Homo sapiens: one gene and its partner. The protein of the gene in region 2 interacts with the protein of the main gene of each other region in a pairwise test. Each region holds a gene or a part of one and is shown on either strand. Other genes may lie near its edges.

Region 1 (3,500 bases), on a different chromosome or scaffold from region 2:
AGGGGTGGATTATTCATGCCTCCCCTTTTTAGACCATATAGGGTAACTTCCTGATATTGCCATGGCATTTGTAAACTGTCTTGGCGCTGGTGGGAGTGTAGCAGTGAGGATGACCAGAGGTCGCTCTTGTCGCCATGTTGGTTTTGGTGGGATTTAGCTGGCTTCTTTACTGCAACCTGTTTTATTAGCAAGGTCTTTATGACTTGTATCTTGTACTGACCTCTTATCTTATCCTGTGGCTTACAATGCCTAGCTGTCTGGGAATGCAGCCCAGTAAGTTTCAGCCGCATTTCACCCAGCTCCTATTCAAGATGGAGTTGCTCTGGTTCACACGCCTCTGACAGTTACTCATACACATTTTTTAACATAACTAATTTTTTTATACCAAGTGCATATCTAATCAGCCTATATATCGTTTCCATGAATAAGTCAAGAACCTTACTAGGCTTTTCTTCATTTTCTGCCCCCTCCTTTCTTTGTTTCCTCTTTCTAGAAGCTGTCAGGATTTTCACTTTATCCTTGGTATTTGGTAATCTTATTGTAATATGCTTGAGACTTGGTGATGTACCCTTTCCGAGAGTCCATGTCTTGCTGTGGGAAATATACCTCTATTATGTTTTTATGAATTTCTGTAATCAACTTTCCTTATTTTATCTGGAACTTATCTCAGAAATATTTTGGGATGAGGCCAGATGCTGAGGCACATGCTTGTAATCCCAGTACTTTGGGAGGCTGAAGTGGGCAGATCACTCGAGGCCAGGAGTTGGAGACCAAGCTCGGCAACTTGGTGAAACCCTGTCTCTACTAAAAATACAAGAATTAGCTAGGCATAGTGGCACGTGCCTGTGGTCCCAACTGCTCAGGAGGGGAAGCATGAGAATCACTTGAACCCAGGAGGCGGAGGCTGCAGTGAGCTGAGATCACACCACTGCACTCTAGCCTGGGTGACAGTGAGACTTCGCCTAAAAAGAAAAAAAGAAAAAAAGGAAACATTTTGGAATGCTGGGATTTATCTTTTGTGTCTCTTATTTTTCATTCATTCATTTAAATTTTTATGAGCCTTTGTCCTGCATGCTAAAAGATTTTCTCACCTAATTTTCTTACCTACTTATTACTTCTTATGTTCTACACATTCTGCAGATCAGCTTACAAGAAACTACTAGTTCTCTGTCAATACCCATTTTTTCCCTTCTCCTATTGTAATAAAGCTTTATCTGAGCATGTGGCTGTTCCACTGATGACCACATTTCATCACTTCCCTTGTGTATCAGTGAGGCCATATAACTAAGATCTGGACAGCGAGATGTGAGGGACAATGTGAGCCACTTACAGTTATCATTCTTAAAATGCTCTTTGTTCCTTTTCCCTCTATTTACTGGTTGGAAGATGGTAAGTGGACCAGCCATCTGGGACATATAAGTAGGAAGCCATTTGTTAAATATGACAGAGCTTTCCTACGAGCCCTAAACTGCTTTGCTAATCCCTGGATTGTCATGTGAAAGGGAAAAAACTTCTGTGTTGTTTAAACAACTGTGTTTTGGTGTTTTAAATAAGTTGAACAAGTTTAATAGCACTCAGGCTAATCCATATTCTATTAATTTTTTAAATTTCAAAAATAAAATTTTTGCCAGTCTTTTTTCTTGGTTCATTATATTATTTTATACTGATAGCCTTTCCTTTCTCTGTGAAAATATTAACTATATCTAGTCTGCTCTTGTATTTTGTTTTGTTTTGATTTACTCTAGTAGTTCTAAAACTTTACTATAAGCATCATCTGGAGGGCTCATGAATATATAGAATGCTGTGCTTACCCAGGAGTTTCTGATCAATAGCTCTGGGGTGGGGCCTGAAAATTTGCATTGCTAATAGTTTTCTAGATGCCGCTGATGTGTTTGAGATTCTTAATGTCCAGTGTGCCAATAGCATATTGGTTCACCCAGTCTGACCCCATGATTTTAGGGGAAATGTAAAGCTTGATTATGGGAGAAACCTAGTTTTCTGGATAGGGGGCTTTTTTTTTTTCATCCTGGGTGTCACCTTCTGGGACACTCACCACTCTTGCCTAGGGACAAATATCTCTGTTGCTCCTTGCCTAATTATTTTAGAGGAACCTATCCCTTTTGCAGTTTTTAAAGTCACCTGGTTAGTGGCCACTCTGCTCAGACCATCCATCAGTTTTGGGCTTAGAGCAGTCCTAGAGCCCCTTGTTTTTTCTGACTTGCTTCTCCAGTGCATGATTAGGTTACAGACTCTTTCTTCAATTAATTCTACTGGCCTCTTTTGTTGAAGGGATTCTTCAAAGTTTCTATTCTTTTGGGGGACCCCTTCAGTTTGATCTAGTATCTTTGTCGATATCTGCTTTACATAGTTTTTCTACAATTATTAGGCATTAGGATGAGAGTAAGGGATGCATCAGCATAAGCTCTATCATCAGTCTTGATCCGGCCTCTTCACATTTTATTTTTATTTATGAGTTTAATAAATAAAATTATAAACTCTCAGAAAAAAATGATAAACTCTCTCAGCTATATCATAAACTTTTTGAGGGTTTAGTACTATGGTGTACTTTCAAACATATTCATGTTTCATACAAGTTAATAAATATTTGTTTGCTTCAGTCTCCATTTTATCTAACCTGCCTTTGGTGGTTTCCACACATACCTACCTGATGTGTATTTAGGAAAACACAGTTTTGTTATAAACATGAGCCTAAGCTAGTGGCATTTAAGATAAGATGGAGATAATTAATATGTATGACAATAATAGTATTTATTGAGGACTCATGATGTACCAGGCTTGGGTTAAGCACTTTATATGTATACTCTTATTATCACTGTTTTACACATGAGGGTACTAAAGCATAGAGATGGCAAGTAACTTATCCAATCAAACAACTAGTGAGTAGCAGAAGGAAGATTCAAACTAAGTTTTACTCCAGAGTCTATTCTGTTAAGGATCGTACAAACATCCTTCTGGGAAGGTATATTTGCGAGATGTCAAAGTCAAATAGCAGTCACATGCATTATACATGTTTTTTATGTTAGTGTTTGTGAAAATATGTATTTGGAGCTAAAACTAGACTCAGTTATTTTGTTGTGGAATTGGAATTGAAATAATCATCATTGCCTTTATTGTCTGATCAAAAAGTTGATGATAGGCACTTTCTATTTCCTTTTAATTTAACTATAGGTGATAGTGATACAGACTTACTACAGGCAATGGCATGCTAAAATCTTCGTAGAGAATTTAAGAAGACAGAAAAGCTTAAGACTGGAATGGGAAACACAGCAAGAACTAAGGAAGATAAGAGAAAAAGAAGAATGGATAAAATTGGACTATCACCGGAGGCATAATCCTAAAACAAATGAAGATTTTGAATTTCTTTATAATGCATTAGAATGTAAGTTGGACACAGGCTTTGCAAAAAATATTTTTAAATTCTTCATTAATAGGAAAAACAGATTTACTGCAGACAAAAGGAAGGTGTTATTATTTTAGGG
Region 2 (3,500 bases):
GCCCGGCCCCCACTACTGTTCTTTTCCTGATCTAGGATCTAACCCAGGATCCCACATGGCATTTACTCATCATGTCTCCAAAGTCTCTGAATCTATGGCAGTTGCCCGGTCTTTCCTTTTTTTCATGCCCTTAACACTTTTAAAGGGTACTAGTCAGTTATTTTGTAGAATGTCTCTCAATTTGACAACCCCAGACATTTAAAAACAGCTTAATTTTTTTTTTGACTAGATAACACATTCACCTGGTACAAAATGTGTGAGAAGACTGTTTTAAAAATTAGCTGCATCAGCGCATTAATAGGTCAGATTTTGTTTGCTTATACGACGACATATGTTGGTTATGGAAAACTTAGACAATATGCAAAGAGGTGGGATAGAAAGGCAAAATCCCCCTAAATCTTCCCTCTAAGAGCAATCACCATGGACCTTTTTGGTGAACATCTGTGCAGACCTCTCTGCACGTGTTCATGGGAGGCTTAATCACTGACATCTTTTCCCACAAATAGGCTCTCGTAACACTTGCTATTCTGCGACCTGCTTTTCCGCCCAGAGAAATGTCCTGGCCACTTTTCTGCATCTCAGATTTGAGTCTCAGAGCATCTTCTCTGTGGCTGTTCAGCATGGGATGACCCAGCCAGTCTCCTGTGGGACACATTTAGCATAAGGAAATCCATGCGTTGCACTAAGATCTCTGTAAGCGGGCAAGATGCTAGGCTGAGAGTGGAAGTGTTGGTGTGGTTCCTGGCTCTCGTTGTTCTGAAAGAGTCCCCTTCCCTCTCTATCTGTTTCATTACTGGTAACAGGGAGATGTGTAGGTTTCTCAGACTCAGGGCAAGGGAGAGGCTCAGGGCTCTGTGTGCACCCTGATGCTGAATCTCACTTCCCCTTCCAGGCAGGGTGCCCAGTCTACCCAGGATGAGGTCGCTGCATCTGCCATCCTGACTGCTCAGCTGGATGAGGAGCTGGGAGGTACCCCTGTCCAGGTGAGCCCAGCCCACCGCCTCTCTGGGCTGCAGCCTGAGCCTTGTCCTTCTCTTCACTCATCTGTCTGACTCTCATCCATCCATTCGTTTGTCCATCTGTCTGTCTGTCCATCCATCCATCCATCCATCCATCCATCCATCCATCCATCCATGGAACAGGTATTTATTTAGGGCTTCCATGTGTTCCACACTGCATCTGTAGCCATGGACACACAGACACACTGTCCCTGCCCTAGTGGACTTTGCTGTCTTGGGTGGTAGTAGACATTCAACACACAGGCACACCAATGGCTATGACAGATGCAGTGAGTGAAATTGACAAGACCTTGGGAGAGAGACATGGGAGAGGCCATGTGGCTGAGCACGGATGTGGAACCAGCATGCTTGGGTTTGAATCCTGTCCTCACCTCTGGGCAACGTTGGGCAAGTCACTTAGCCTCTCTGTGCCTCTGTGTCCTCAAAATAGGGGTAATAACAGTACCATCCCACAAGATTGCTGTGAGGATTAAGAGTTAACATTTGTAAGCATTTAGAATCATGCCTGCCATATAAGAAGTGCCCCCTTATACATATGTGTTAAGTACAAGGAGGTAAATCCTAGGTAGGATCCTATTGGATTAGAAAAGCCCACCCCTGTCCCAGGAGGGGACTGTTCAACTGGGACCTGATGCACGTGTAGGAGTTGCCCAGGCAGAGTGAAGGAAAGCACATTGTGGGTAAAGGGTGGTACACATGCAAAGGCCCTGAGGTGGGAGGGGGCATTGGGTGTTAAAGCAAGGGGAAAATGCCATGATTTGAGGCTAGAGAGGTGCTCAGAGGGGCCAGACCACCAGAGGCCATAGTGACGATGTTGACCTTGATGCTGAGAACAACAGGAAGTTGCTGAATGATAAGTCTGAGGTGTAGGGATTTCTGGTTTAAAAAGTCACTCTGGCCAGGCGCTGGAGGGCAGCAGAGCTGGTTTGTGGAAATATAGGGGAAGCGGACAACAACTGTGCTTCCTCCGTCCTACGGTGGGAGTGGGCAGGGCTCTAGATTGGCATCGGGGGTTCGTGCCCTGACCTTTGACTATGATAGACTGGGTGCTGGGCACTAAATGAGATGATGACCATCTTAGCTCAGTGCATCCTGACAACAGCCTTGGGAGTAGCATCCTTGGCTGCATTTTTCAGAGGAGGAACTCAAGAGGTTGAGACACGTGCCCAAGTTCTCACCATCAGGGTGGAGTTGGGGTCTAAGCCCTAACTCAGCGGTGGTGGGTCGTGGTGGGAAGCGACTGCCATATGCCTGACGTACATGTGAGGTTTTCTTCTGGACATAGTTAGCCGGGGCCACGGTAAGGTGCCGCACACAGGGCAGGAGCAGATGTGAGGGTGTACATCTTCCCTGCCTCACTCCCACCACCAAGCCCCTGACTGCTGCCCGCATCTGGGGTGCACTGGCTCTGCAGGAGGGGGTTTTCTGGATCTAGAATGCTCTGTTCTTACCACTCCACCAGCAGTCATGCCCAGGCCTGACGTCAGCATTCTGGAAGAATGTCCACCAGCAATCCCTGTGCTTCTATTTAAGGGAACATTTGCAAACACAGGCTCTCCTGGTTCTTGGACCAGGCTGAGGATCAGGAAGGCATGTCGTCATGGAGATGGAGAGCAGCCCAGCAGCAGTGCCCTGGGGACCTCAGACAATAGCACTGTCTCCACCCTTCCTGGAATTCTGGTGTCCCTGCCTGTGTGTTGTCGGGTCACATTCCATGCCACACACAGACACAAGCATGATGGCTTCGTCTGGAGGGATGGGCCCAGTGCGACATAGAAGGACTGAAGCCTGCCCCCAAGGTCCCTGACTTGCTCTCCTGTCTCCCTGCCAGAGCCGTGTGGTCCAAGGCAAGGAGCCCGCCCACCTCATGAGCCTGTTTGGTGGGAAGCCCATGATCATCTACAAGGGCGGCACCTCCCGCGAGGGCGGGCAGACAGCCCCTGCCAGCACCCGCCTCTTCCAGGTCCGCGCCAACAGCGCTGGAGCCACCCGGGCTGTTGAGGTAATTTCCAGGTCCTGGAACACAGAAGGGATTGGCCTCCCTGAAACCTCCCAGCTCAATGACCAGATCTCCAGGCACAGGAACGGGGGCAGGGGATGGTGAATGACGGGGTAAGAAGCAGCTTTTTGTATTTTCCTGCCGTGGCCACAGGGTTGTCTGTCTTAGACTCCCCCCTGTTTCAAGGATACCCAGTGTCCCTTGCACACTTTGCACAGTGGACAGCTCACTACCTACCATTCTGTACAATCAGCATGCCATTCCTGATTACGTTCCAGTTGCCTACTATCCCTTTCACGGAGGAAGGCACAGATCTGGACTTGATTCCCAGGATGGTCTGAGCAGCCTAGAGGGGAATGGGACTCTCACCTCCTTTGTTCTGGGCATTCAACTTCTGTTAATGCAGCCCTGATTTTTAGAATCATGTTGGCTAGTCACAGTGCATTAGTGACTCATGGGAGTCAACCAAGGCCATCAGGGTC

The links. Proteins that work in one complex are often made in the same cells at the same time.
Region 1: the proteins of GSN (region 2) and IQUB interact in binary tests that used the Homo sapiens proteins (3 or more experiments, as listed by UniProt).

What each region holds. Positions count from the first base shown.
Region 1 is NC_000007.14:123,496,596-123,500,095, reverse strand, and holds part of IQUB (IQ motif and ubiquitin-like domain-containing protein), read left to right. Parts: intron 1-3,189; coding exon 3,190-3,400; intron 3,401-3,500. UniProt on the Homo sapiens protein: Adapter protein that anchors the radial spoke 1 (RS1) complex to the A microtubule of outer doublet microtubules in axonemes. The triple radial spokes (RS1, RS2 and RS3) are required to modulate beating of the sperm flagellum.
Region 2 is NC_000009.12:121,323,662-121,327,161, forward strand, and holds part of GSN (gelsolin), read left to right. Parts: intron 1-892; coding exon 893-983; intron 984-2,850; coding exon 2,851-3,021; intron 3,022-3,500. UniProt on the Homo sapiens protein: Calcium-regulated, actin-modulating protein that binds to the plus (or barbed) ends of actin monomers or filaments, preventing monomer exchange (end-blocking or capping).